Regions from separate parts of the Homo sapiens genome. Here region 2 is reported to be linked to region 1. Evidence: microRNA targets listed by miRTarBase, many of them from high-throughput screens and not tested one by one. Region 1 holds a microRNA gene; the other region holds the end of a gene's coding sequence.
Evidence for each region. The annotated mature microRNA hsa-miR-4670-3p reads UGAAGUUACAUCAUGGUCGCUU and lies in region 1 at 1,849-1,870, shown strand. An mRNA with a match to its seed (bases 2 to 7 or 8) in the 3' UTR can be bound and repressed. Matches are read on the target gene's strand: a 7mer-m8 pairs with bases 2 to 8, a 7mer-A1 pairs with bases 2 to 7 and ends in A, and an 8mer does both.

Region 1 (7,000 bases):
ACTGTATCAGAAGAGTTTCACTGCCCTAAGAATCCTCTGTGTTCCACCTATTCATCCCTCTCCGCCCCAAATTCACTATTCTTTTATAGCTTGCATAGTTTTGCCCTTTCTAGAATGTCATAGAGTTGAAATCATACATATGCCATCTCAGGTTGGCTTATTTCATTTAGTTATATATTATATGCATTTAAGGTTCTTCCATGTATTTTCATGGCTTGATGGCTCATTTCTTTTTGGTGTTGAATAATATTCCATTGTCTGAATATACCATAGTTTTTTTTCCATTCACCTATTGAAGAACATGTTGGTTGCTTCTAAGTTTTGGCAATTATGAATAAAGCTCCTATACATATCTGCGTGCAGGTTTTTGTGTGGACATAGATTTTCATCTTATTTGGGTAAATACCAAGGGGCACGATTGCTGGGTTGTATGGCAACAGTATGTTAAGTTTTAAAAGAAACTGCCAAAGTGTCTTCCAAAGTGGCTGTACCATTTTGCATTCCCACCAGCACCGAATGAGACTTACAGTTGCTCCACACACTCACCAGCACTGGGTGTTGTCAGTGTTTTGGGTTTTAGACATTTGGTAGGTATGTAGAGGCATCTCATTTTAATTTGTAATCTGTCTACTATTTTTGAAACTAATATTTAGGATTGAAGTGTTGAAATTTTGGATGACAATTGTGGATTTGTCTATTTCTTTTTGCAGTTTTTGAAAACAAGTTTACCAATTATTTTTGGTAATGTCTAATCTGCTATTCATCCCTTGTCATGTATTTTTTCTCTCTCACATTGTAGTTTTCATCTTTAAAAGTTTGATTTGGGTTTTTAAAAATATCTTCTATGTTTCTACATTACATGGTTAATCCTTCTTCTCACTTCTTGAACATATAGAATATAGGTATAATGATTTTTAAACACCTACTTTATTAGTATATCAGCACTGTCATTTCTGAACTGGTTTCAATAAACTGATTTTTCCCATTATGGGTCAACTTTTCCTGTTTCTTTGTGTACCTGGTAAATTTACATTGGATCCTAAAACATTTGTTGGGTTATCTGAGACACTGTCAAGTTATTGTACGCAGTTTAATTCTTTCAGAAAGGCTTGCTTTTAAGCTTTATTAAATGGGATCACAGCAGCCTTTAGCCTAGGGCTAATTATTTTCCTCTACTGAGCTAATGCTCTTCTGAGTACTCTACCAGATGCCCTGTGAATTGTAAGGTTTTCCACTCTGACTGGTGGAACACAAACTCTTCCTGGTCTTTTTTAAGCTCCAGAGACCTGTTTTTTTTGTTTTGTTTTGCTTTGTTTTCCCCTTTGTCCTTTAGGTTAGTTCTTTTCCCAGTCTCAAGTATTAATAGTTTACTTACATACATGTGCTATCCAGTACTCAGTGGAAGACTTCACATCTCTGGAAGGGTTCCTCTGGGCTAGCTCTCACCTCTCTGTACTCTGCCCTAGGAACACTAGTCTCTTTGGTGTCCTCAGATTTCCAGCTGTATCTTTTCAACTTATGGAGACTGCTGGACTCTGCCTGTGTTCCCCTCACTGCAACTCCCTTGAGGGAGTAAGCAGGTCAATCACAGGTCTCTCCGGGCATTTGATTTGCATCCCCTTTCAGGGATCACTGGCCTGGACTGCTCTTTGTTTAATGTTTGGAAAATGCTTCAGATATATGTTGCTCTATTTTTAAGTTGTTTCAGGTGGGAAGGTATACGTAGTCCCTATTACTCCATGTTGGCTGGGAGTCAGATTTGATAAGTTTTGTCATAATACTGGTGTAATGGCTGAATGATTCTCTAGGAAGCGACCATGATGTAACTTCACAGACTCTCCAAAAGTCTGAAGTTACATCATGGTCGCTTCCTAGAGTATCATTCTACTTCATGGAGCCACTCTGGTTACTAGTTGTCAAACTAGTAGGAATGTTGTTATGGCAATACAGGGAAGGTGATCTCCACAAAACCATGCTCATTTTCTTGGCCTTCAGGTGATATACTGTATGCAGAATGTAAAAAATAGGTCAGTTAGTGACATCTGTACTTAGGCCAAGGACCCAGGATGGCAGCCATATGTTTGCTACTACCATTGTAGGTTTCTACTAAGAAACAATCACAATATTTGCCAAGACTTAGCACTGATCACCCTGCATTTCCTAAACATTTGGGTGGTAGACACTGTGGCTTGAGGAAGGCATTCATTACCCTGAGCTCATGCTCATGGTTTTCAGTTTAGATACCCTTGGAATTTCCCACAGCTTGTCTTAGGTTGTGAAGCAGACTTCTAAGAATCTGGATATCAACAAATTACAGTCATATGTCACTTAGCGACAAGGATACATTCTGAGAAATGTGATGTTACATGATTTTGTTGTCATACATCATAAAGTGTACTTACACGAACCTAGATGGGACAACCTACTATACACCTAGGCTATATGGTAGAGCCTATTGCTCCTAGGCTACAAACCTGTACAGCCCATGACTGTACTGAAAACTGTAGGCAACTGGAACAGAATGGTATTTGTGTATCTAAACATATCTAAAGCCAGGTGTGGGGGCTCATGCCTGTAATCCTAGCACTTTGTGAGGCTGAGGTGGGTGAATCACTTGAGCTCAGGAGTTTGAGACCTGCCTGGGCAACATAGTGAAATCCTGTCTCTACAAAAAAAATATAAAAATCAGCTGGGCATGGTGGCACGGGTCTGTAGTCCCAGCTACTCGGGAGGCTGAGGTGTGAGATTGGCTCGAGCCCAGGAAGCGGAGGTTGCAGTGAGCTGAGATGGTGCCACTGCACTCCAGCCTGGGTGGCAGAGCCAGACCCTGTCTCTAAATAAATAAATAAATAAATAATAAACATATCTACACATAGGAAAGGTATGGTAAGAATATGGTCTAAAATAATTTAAAAAATGGTACACTATCTAGGGTACTTACCATGAATGGAGCTTGGAAGACTGGAAGTCACTCCGGTGAGTCAGTGAGTGAGTGTGAAGGCCTAGGACATTACTATACACTACTGTAAATTTTATAAACACTGTACACTAAGAGTCTACTAAATTTATAAAAAAGTTTTTTTATTTCTTCAATAATGAATTAACCTTAGCTTACTGTAATTTAACTTTATATACTTTTTATTTTTTAAAAAATTTTGACTCTTTTGTAATAGCATTCCTCTTTTTTTTCTTTGTCTAAAGGCTTCTTGATTTTTTTAATCGTTTCAGAAAACTTTTCATTTCATTCCTCTTTTCTATAGTTTTTTTGGTTTCTATTCTGATCTTTATTATTTCTTTTTTTCCACTAATTTTGGGTTTGGTTTGCTGTTGCTTTTCTAGTTCTTTACGATGTATTATTAGGTTGTTTATATGAAGTTTTTCTACTTGTTGATGTAGGTGTTTATTGCTGTAAACTTCCCTCTTAGTACTGCTTTTGCTGTATCCCATAGGTTTTGGTGTGCTGTGTTTTCATCTTCATTTGTTTCAAGAATTTAAAAAAATTCCTTCTTAATAACACTTGGCTTAAAACACAAATACATTGTACAGTTGTACAAAAATATTTTCTTTCTTTATAGCGTAATTTTGTAAGCTTTTTTCTATTTTTATTTTTTAACTTTTCAAACATTTTTGTTAAAAACTGAGACAAACACGCATTAGCCTAGGCCTTCATTGGGTCTGGATCATCAATATCACTGTCTTCCCCCTCCATATCTTGTCCCACTGGAAGGTCTTCATGGGTAATAACACTCATGATAAGAATGCCTTCTTCTGAAATACCTCCTGAAGGAACCACCTCAGGCTGTTGCGCAGTTAATGTTTGTTTAAATAGATAGAAGGCATGTACTCTAAAACAATGATAAAAAGTATAGTATAGTAAATACATAAACCAGTAATATAGTTGTATATGAAAGTATTATGTACTGTACTGTACATAATTGTATGTGCTTTTTTTTTTTTTTTTTTTTTTGGAGATAGAGTCTCTCTGCACTCTGGGCATGGTGGTGCATACCTGTAGTCCTAGCTACTCAGTGCAACCTCCGCCTCCCGGGTTTAAGCGATTCTTCTGTCTCAGCCTCCCGAGTTGCTGGGATTACAGGCGTGCACCACCACACACAGCTAATTTTATATTTTTAGTAGAGATGGGGTTTCACCATGTTGGGCAGGCTGGTCTCGAACTCCTGACCTCAGGTGATCCACCCACCTTGGCCTCCCAAAGTGCTGGGATTATAGGCTTGAGCCACCGCGCCCAGCCTGTGCTGTATTTTTATATGACTGGAAGTGCAGTAGGTTTGTTTATACCAGCATCACCACAAACATTATGAGTAATGCGTTATGCTATGATGCTGTGACGTCTCTAGGCAATAAGAGATTTTCAGCTCCATTATAATTTTATGGGACCATCATGGTATATGCAATTTGTCACTGACAAAAAAGTCATTATGTGGTACATGACTGTACTTTCTTTGGTCAAATGGTCAGACAGAAAGATTGAGTCAAATGCTTGCAGGGTCTTTCAGGTTTTTTCTTTTCTTTTTTTTTTTTTGAGACAGAGTCTCGCTCTGTTACCCAGGCTGGAGTACAGTGCTGCAATCATTGCTCACTGCAACCTTGAACTTCTGGGCTCAAGTGAGCCTCCTGCCTCAGCCTCCTGAGTAGCTAGGACTACAGGTATGCACCACCATGCCCAGCTAATTTTTTATGTTTTAGTTGAGACAAGGTCTTGCTATGTTCCTTACTCTGGTCTTAAACTCCTGGCCTCAAGCAATCCTCCCACCTTGGTTTCGGCCTCCTATAGGGCTGGGATTACAGGCATGAGCCACAGTGCCTGGCCTCTCAGGTATTTTCTGAGGTTCCAACAAGATGACTGGGTTAGCAGTCTATGGCCACTTATCCCTTAATCCTTCAATGCCTCTCCTTTGCAGTTTAGGGTATTCATCTCTGTATGTAACATCACCTTGAATGTTTTACCATTCCTTCCTATCATAGATTTGTTCTGGTTGGCAAAGGAGACCAAGGTATGCCTGTGAGAATTGAAATAAATTTCATCACTGAGCAAGTTAGTTACTTTAACCTTCTAGAATCACCAAATACCTTAAATTCCCATTAAAAAGATAACAGCGGCAAATCTGTTGTGATCTGGGTTCTTATGATCCCTGGGGTTTTAGTTTCTCCTCCATACTGGCTGTGTAAGGAAGGCTTTTCATCTCAGGAAACACTGACAGTGAGTGGACCTGAGGCAAGAGCAGGAGGAAAGCTGCAAGGGGTATAGGTGTGTGTATGTGAGTATGTGTGTGTTTCTCAGCTGTAGAATTCTGAGAGGCAGTCAAAACTGCCAACCTTCCTTTGTAGGACTAACTTTAGGCCAAGAGAGATTGGCTGAGTGAATCCTTTGATGACAGCTGCTGCAACACCTTGATGGAGGTTTCTCTTGTCCCTGGCCACCAGACTTCACAGGGATTGCGCCAGTCTGTCTGACCATAATGCTACTACTGTACCAAGAGTGCCTAAATATTCATTTCTTAAATGTTTTTCAGCTTTACCATGTGCAAGGCCCTATACTAACCCTGAGACCAGCTAATTAAAGAGTTACTCTTCCTGACTCTTACCTCCTTATAACTGATGCTATTGACTGTTATTTTTATATGGCACCATCACGCCCTTCCCCCCAGACAATTATAAAGCTAGAGAATAAAAGCACAAAACAGAAAACGGCTGGGAAAATGGGTTGTGGATTACATCAGTCACAGAACGTCTTAGCAAACAGGTGGAGAGAAATCTCCCAAGTAATCTTTGAAAACCTGCAGAACAGTAGGGCCCAGAGAGGGGGCCATGTCTGATCCACCACCTTTACTGGTAATGAGTTTCCCTGGAACACATCCATGCTCATTTGTTTACAAATTGTTGTTGGGGAAAAGGCTTATGGAGTGCCTGCATAAACTGGCCATAAAAATATGGGACAATAAGTTGTGGAAAGCCACAAGAGGTCTCTGAGGAGGAAAGCCTTCTTATCGCCGTTATGTTCCCATGCTCTGAGTGCAACCTGCTCTCTTATCTATAAACACTGTGCTCAAGGAGAAAGACACTCCTCTGAAACACTGAAATGTGGACAGACGTACAGGCTCCTAGTTAAGCCCGCTCCTACTAGCTACTCTCCAATAAGTTAAAGATATGCTGTTTAAGCACAAAGGAGATTCATTTAAACCGCTACTGCTATAGATTACGCCTATGACATGCTGCCTCCCTTTCACTGTTTCGCCCTAAACATCTGCTTCTTAGATCTAAGTGATTGTACTCAATAAATCGTGTGGAGACCAGAACTCTGGGCCTTTTGCAGCCTCCATTGTGCAACTGGCCCCCTGGCTCCCATCTTTATGAACTCTTAACCTGTCTCTTCTCTTCCTTTGTTGCCACAGGGCTTTGGGTACCCTATGGGTGGTGTTGAGGCTGGTCCCCAACATATTGTCTATGGCTGCTTTCATGCTACAATGACAGAGCTGAATAGGTATGACAGAGAAGGTGTAGCCTATGACGCCTCAAATATTTACTATCTGGCCCTTTATAGAAAAAGGTTTCTAATTCCTGGTCTAAAGATAAAGGTAAGATACAAAAAAGTTCTGAACAGGCATGGTGACTCATGCTGTAATCCCAGCACTTTGGGAGGCCAATGCAGGAGGACTGCTTGAGCCCAGGAGTTCAAGGCTGCAGTGAGTCATGACTGAACCACTGCACTCCAGCCTGGGCGATGGAGCAAGACCCCATCTCTATTTAAAAAAAAAAAAAAGTTTTTTGATTCTGATAGAAGAATTCCAAATTATGATTTGGCAATAATACTATAGCATATAGTCCATATATCATAAGTGTAATTTCTCAAAGACTTGCCTACTGAGGCATACAAGCAAATATATAAGCCAATTTTCAGAAGTAAAAATTTAGTCACCACTAACTTTGAAATATTGTTTCATTCTAGAAATTGGCTGGTGGAAAAAAATCAAACATGAAG
Region 2 (7,489 bases), not on the chromosome of region 1:
CTTAAAGAAAAGAATTTTCAACCCAGAATTTCATATCCAGCCAAACTAAGCTTCATAAGTGAAGGAGAAATAAAATACTGTACAGACAAGCAAATGCTGGGAGATTTTGTCACCACCAGGCCTGCCCTAAAAGAGCTCCTGAAGGAAGCGCTAAACATGGAAAGGAAAAACCGGTACCAGCCGCTGCAAAATCATGCCAAAATGTAAAGACCATCGAGGCTAGGAAGAAACTGCATCAACTAACGAGCAAAATAACCAGCTAACATCATAATGACATGATCAAATTCACACATAACAATATTAACTTTAAATGTACATGGACTAAATGCTCCAATTAAAAGACACAGACTGGCAAATTGGATAAAGAGTCAAGACCCATCAGTGTGCTGTATTCAGGAAACCCATCTCACGTGCAGAGACACACATAGGCTCAAAATAAAAGGATGGAGGAAGATCTACCAAGCAAATGGAAAACAAAAAAAGGCAGGGGTTGCAATCCTAGTCTCTGATAAAACAGACTTTCAACCAACAAAGATCAAAAGAGACAAAGAAGGCCATTACATAATGGTAAAGGGATCAATTCAACAAGAAGAGCTAACTATCCTAAATATATATGCACCCAATACAGGAGCACCCAGATTCATAAAGCAAGTCCTGAGTGACCTACAAAGAGACTTAGACTCCCACACATTAATAATGGGAGACTTTAACACCCCACTGTCAACATTAGACAGATCAACGAGACAGAAAGTTAACAAGGATAACCAGGAATTGAACTCAGCTCTGCACCAAGCGGACCTAATAGACATCTACAGAACCCTCCACCCCAAATCAACAGAATATACATTTTTTTCAGCACCACACCAAACCTATTCCAAAATTGACCACATACTTGGAAGTAAAGCTCTCCTCGCCAAATGTAAAAGAACAGAAATTATAACAAACTGTCTCTCAGACCACGGTGCAATCAAACTAGAACTCAGGATTAAGAAACTCACTCAAAACCGCTCAACTACATAGAAACTGAACAACCTGCTCCTGAATGACTACTGGGTACATAACGAAATGAAGGCAGAAATAAAGATGTTCTTTGGAACCAACGAGAACAAAGACACAACGTACCAGAATCTCTGGGACACATTCAAACCAGTGTGTAGAGGGAAATTGATAGCACTAAAAGCCCACAAGAGAAAGCAGGAAAGATCCAAAATTGACACCCTAACATCACAATTAAAAGAACTAGAAAAGCAAGAGCAAACACATTCAAAAGCTAGCAGAAGGCAAGAAATAACTAAAATCAGAGGAGAACTCAAGGAAATAGAGACACAAAAAACCCTTCAAAAAATTAATGAATCTAGGAGCTGGTTTTTTGAATGGATCAACCAAATTGATAGACCACTAGCAAGACTAATAAAGAAGGAAAGAGAGAAGAATCAAATAGATGCAATAAAAAATGATAAAGGGGATATCACCACCAATCCCACAGAAATACAAACTACCATCAGAGAATACTACAAACACCTCTACGCAAATAAACTAGAAAATCTAGAAGAAATGGATAAATTCCTCAACACATACACCCTCCCAAGACTAAACCAGGAAGAAGTTGAATCTCTGAATAAACCAGTAACAGGCTCTGAAATTCTGGCAATAATCAATAGCTTACCAACCAAAAAGAGTCCAGGACCAGATGGATTCACAGCCGAATTCTACCCGAGGTACAAGGAGAAACTGGTACCATTCCTTCTGAAACTACTCCAATCAATAGAAAAAGAGGAAATCCTCCCTAACTCATTTTATGAGGCCAGCATCATCCTGATACCAAAGACTGGCAGAGACACAACCAAAAAAAGAGAATTTTAGACCAATATCCTTGATGAACATTAATGCAAAAATCCTCAATAAAATACTGGCAAACCGAATCCGGCAGCACATCAAAAAGCTTATCCACCATGATCAAGTGGGCTTCATCCCTGGGATGCAAGGCTGGTTCAATATATGCAAATCAATAAATGTAATCCAGCATATAAACAGAACCAAAGACAAAAACCACATGATTATCTCAATAGATGCAGAAAAGGCCTTTGACAAAATTCAACAACCCTTCATGCTAAAAACTCTCAATAAATTAGGTATCGATGGGAAGTATCTCAAAATAATAAGAGCTATCTATGACAAACCCACAGCTAATATCATACTGAATGGGCAAAAACTGGAAGCATTCCCTTTGAAAACAGGCACAAGACAGGGATGCCCTCTCTCATCACTCCTATTCAACATAGTGTTGGAAGTTCTGGCCAGAGCAATTAGGCAGGAGAAGGAAATAAAGGGTATTCAATTAGGAAAAGAAGAAGTCAAATTGTCCCTGTTTGCAGATGGCATGATTGTATATCTAGAAAACCCCATTGTCTCAGCCCAAAATCTCCTTAAGCTGATAAGCAACTTCAGCAAAGTCTCAGGATACAAAATCAGTGTACAAAAATTACAAGCATTCTTATACACCAATAACAGACAAACGGAGAGCCAAATCATGAGTGAACTCCCATTCACAATTGCTTCAAAGAGAATAAAATACCTAGGAATCCAACTTACAAGGGATGTGAAGGACCTCTTCAAGGAGAACTACAAACCACTGCTCAAGGAAATAAAAGAGGATACAAAGAAATGGAAGAACATTCCAAGCTCATGGGTAGGAAGAATCAATATCGTGAAAATGGCCATACTGCCCAAGGTAATTTATAGATTCAATGCCATCCCCATCAAGCTACCAATGACTTTCTTCACAGAATTGGAAAAAACTACTTTAAAGTTTATATGGAACCAAAAAAGAGCCCGCATCGCCAAGTCAATACTAAGCCAAAAGAACAAAGCTGGAGGCATCACGCTACCTGACTTCAAACTATACTACAAGGCTACAGTAACCAAAGCAGCATGGTACTGGTACCAAAACAGAGATACAGATCAATGGAACAGAACAGAGCCCCCAGAAATAATGTCGCATATCTACAACTATCTGATCTTTGACAAACCTGAGAAAAACAAGCAATGGGGAAAGGATTCCCTATTTAATAAATGGTGCCGGGAAAACTGGCTAGCCATATGTAGAAAGCTGAAACTGGATCCCTTCCTTATACCTTATACAAAAATTAATTCAAGATGGATTAAAGACTTAAACGTTAGACCTAAAACCATAAGAACCTTAGAAGAAAACCTAGGCATTACCATTCAGGACACAGGCATGGGCAATTTCCATAATTTTTATAGTTGCATAGTTTATCGTGTAGGGTGCTAATTTGTCTCACATCAACTTGAAGCTTCGGAAAAAACATGTCTTCAAACTGAATTATACATATCGCATAGGAAAGCTGTATGTATCAGAGAAAAAAGACACTGGTCTATTAAGCATTTTAAATACAAAAACTATGAGGTATAGAAACAAAGCACCAGAAGTACATGAAAAAAGGAATCTTAGGCACATAAAAAGTTCCCTCGCTGCATAGGGAAGATAGGTAACAGTGAAGGAGAAAGACGGAGTTAGAAGAGGCTGTAAAGTCACATTAGGTATGCATTAGAAATCCTCTTACAGGTTCAGGGCACTGGTATAACATCACAGGCCATGGGCCTGTTGGCTATATATGCTAGTTCGTAACTGGATTAGATTTTTTCCATTTACGTGTCACTATTTTACGGAAAACCAATCTCAAATTTTATTTTTTAAAAAAAGAGAAATAGAATTTGCTTCACAGCAGTTTACATTACAGTTATTTATTTCTCACTCTGTCTCCCAGGCTGGAATGCAGTGGCGTGATCTCGTCTCACTGCAACCTCCGTCTCCCAGGTTCAAGCAATTCTCTCGCCTCAGCCTCCTGAGTAGCTGGGATTACCAGGTGCCTGCCACCACGCCCAGCTAATTTTTGTAGTTTTGTAAAGACGGGGTTTCACCATGTTGGTCAGACTGGTCTCGAACTCCTGACCTCAAATGATCCGCCCGCCACGGCCTCCCAAAGTGCTGGGATTACAGGTGTGACCCACTGCGTCCAGCCTATGTTACAGCTAGTTCATTTTATAAATTATTCTATTCCTTCAAAATAAGGACAGCTATTAATGAAAGATTTCTTGAAAGTGCAAGACCTGCAGGTTTCAGAACTTAAAGTCATTCATGATCCTAACTGGCCCCCTCCTATTTCTACCCTCGTCTTGTCATTTGAAAGACAAGCCAGTGCTTCACTTTCATTGGATTTTTTCCCCCTGGTATTTTCATTTTTAATAATGGGAAGGCATAAACTAACACAGTAACAGTTTTAAAGTACTCATCATTTAAACCTTTATAAGGCTAGTAATGTAAAAGGTAAAGAAAAATGTATATGGGTTGTAATAAGGGTAGTTTTTTCTATTCACTGTTACTTGACTTTTATAGGGCAAAAATCATAGTAGAGACTATGTCATTGATTTTCAGCATGAAAGATATCAAAATTAAAATGGGAAAATGATACATTTAACATTGGTAAACAGGAATTTATCAAAAGACAAAGAAAAATTGCAGAAAAGTATATCAGTTAAACCATAATACTCAAATTGGAGTGGAAAAGATTATAATCCGACAGATATTTATCAAAAACTAACTTATAGTATTTAAAATGTGAAATTTGACTTCAGGGCAGGGCAACATATTTTAAACACAGGAAATCAGAACACAACACTTGAGCGAAACACTTAAGTTACCCTTAAGTAATCTTACAGGTGACTAATTTCACAGGCTCAGATTTAAAACTACGGTGCTTTAAATCTGAGTCTGTGAAATTAGTCACCCTTAAGATTACTGGCTAAAGATTTAATCTTCTCTCAAAAAGAAAATAAACAAGCTACCTGATTACAACAGTCTTAGAAAATAAAAATGAAATTTTCATTTATAGTATGAAACCTGTTACATCAATTCATTAAATATGATGTTCGACTCAACTTTTCCGTTGTTTAAATAGTGCTAAAATAATAGTATAGCCCAACCAGGGAAATCGTAAATATTTAAGATTACAATGTCAGTGGAAAACATTTTTCGCATGAATTAAAAGAAAAGCATTCATTTGAAAATATTCCCAAGTAAGAAGCCAAAATAATTCCATTAGAATTTTAAAAGGCCAGAAAGAGCAACCCAAAAATCCAGTGTGAAAGAAAACAATACCTATATAAACGTTAAGCAAAGCCAGGAATGTAGATTACTTTGAAACATCTACTTATTTCCATTTTAATGAAGAATTAAAGGATACAATGTGTTAAAGACATATTTAAAATACTAGCAAGGGATTAGACAGACGAATCAAATTTTGTTGATATCCCAAATAATTACAAGAGACTTCGAAAATGTAGTGTAATTCAGGTTTTCTTTCCAGTTTAAAAATTTCTATCCATTGCCTCTATCTTTGGTGTCACTGCCACCAATAAACACAGTATACAGCTTAGAAACCTAATTACTATCTTCAACTAGGAAAAGGTAAACCAACATCATTTCTTTAAAATGAGAAATAAAGAATGTGATCGTACTTAATTTTGTCTCATGGTCCCACAATACTCTGAAATGTCATGCCAAAATGTAAAAGTTCAAAAGGGAACATTATCATTTGCTATAATTGCACCAAAAATTTAGCTACTGTACGCTGGTGTGATGACAGCCAGTAGTATGCAGAGGCTACAGAAAGACATGTAGATATATATATATACACACACATATATATATATATCTCTTTAGCTCACAATTAGTAAAAGGTTCAGTTTAATGTGAAACTGAAACACACGACAACATAATGCGCCTTCATGTAAATACGCTAACAACTTTGTTTTCTTGAAGTTTAAAAGGATAGTATAATTACCTTAAATTTACACAAAACATTAAGAAACATGGTAGTTGTTTATGATTAAAATAAAATAGCAACGTAAATTAATTTAACACAGTGTTAAATATATTCACACGATCACCACTGTGATTCAAAATGGCCACTAATGCAGTTACATATCAATATATGTACATAACATTTGTCACAACAGTTTTTGTAAGTTTGACTTTCTGCAGACCAGGTTTACGAGACAAATAGCCTTGTATCAATTCTTTCATATTATGAAAGGAATTAAATGTTGTAAGTAGTTTCATTCCTCTGCAGGGGCGGGGGGGGAAGAACCTCTAAAAAGTCAGTGTAAATTGAGGAGAGTTCTACCTTCTTGAATATTTGAACCTGTTGACCTGGAGAGATTCCTATAAGCTGAGGATAAACACATCTTAAGATAGTAATGAATCTCATAACATTGTCAGTGGCATTTAGCAGGTATCTGCCACCAAGAGGAACACCGGGTCCTATAGCAGAGCCTTCTGAGAATATGGTTGCTGTGGCTGAGGTGGCTGTTGGCTGCCTCCGGGCTGAGGCAGAGTTGATGATGTTAAGTTATAGTTTGGCACCTGGGGCATATTAGGTCCTGCATTCTGGTACAGAGTGACATCGGCAGTTGCAGCAGCAGCAGTAGCGGCAGGAGGAGGACTATATACTGGCGCCTGGCTGGGATATGTGTTTCCTTGAACGGAACTGACCATTGTACTGTGGAGGAAGAAAAACACTCAATTACATCAATACTGATTTATAGAGCAACTACAGATAAATGGAAAAGCTATTTACTAAGCATTCATTCATATAGTCAATTCATTTAATAACCTTTTACTAAACAGCTATAATGTGCCAAACATTGTTATTTTAGGCTTTGTGATATCAGGCATTGCATTAAAAATATGTGTGTTATTTAACCATTGTGTAAAAAAAGTTGGGGGGGGTGGTTTGCGGAAATAAGTCTATACCACCATGGAGCGTCTGTTCTAGTGGTAGAAAAGGGTAACAAACACATGTATCGTGTGTCAAGTGGTTCTAACTGGTAAGAACAAAAACAAAGCCCAATACGGAGGACAAAGAGCAGCTGGGGCAAGGGATTCTAGTTTATGGTAGGGTGCCTCTCCAATAAGGCAATACTTAAGCAAAGATGTGGAAAAAGTAAGCGAGTGAGCCAGATAGATTCCCTAGGAAAGTACATTTCAGGTAAACAGAAAGAAGCCTTTGAGGAGAGAAAACACCAAGCATGTTCAAGGAACAGCAGGCCACGAGTGCTGCGGCAGAGGGGGCCGCAGGGGGTGCCGAGGGGAGAGCAGCTAAGATCACCGGCAGGACTGCGGTGGTGGGGAGGGGGCTGGAGAACACACAGCACCTGATGGCCACAATAAGGACTGTAGCTTACACTCTGAGTGAGACAGAAAGACACTGGCTCGTTCTGAGCAGAAGCGTGATAAGATTCCACAGGGTTTAACGGGCTCCCTCTGGACCAGGATAGCTGACTGCAGGTTATTACGATCCACCAGGAGAGAGCCGACCAGCAGAAGAGCCACGGCAGTAATGGTGGAGATGGGAGAAAGGGTCAGAGTCTAGATAGATTTTGAAGATAATGCCTTCAAAATATGATA

Region 2: miRTarBase lists STAM as a target of hsa-miR-4670-3p. Seed matches in the 3' UTR shown: 7mer-A1 at 5,838-5,844.

The regions. Positions count from the first base shown.
Region 1 is chr9:92,522,861-92,529,860 of GRCh38, reverse strand. It overlaps MIR4670 (microRNA 4670), which reads left to right and starts at 1,803; the gene lies at 1,803-1,877. All of the region lies in intron 5 of CENPP (centromere protein P), which reads right to left. It overlaps ECM2 (extracellular matrix protein 2), which reads left to right. Exons shown (of 10, transcript NM_001393.4): 2 at 6,968-7,000. The coding sequence starts at 6,995.
Region 2 is chr10:17,713,635-17,721,123 of GRCh38, reverse strand. STAM (signal transducing adaptor molecule) reads right to left here. Exons shown (of 14, transcript NM_003473.4): 14 at 4,300-6,581. The coding sequence ends at 6,344. Among named protein-coding and RNA genes, the nearest start is that of TMEM236, 35 kb to the left of the region's middle.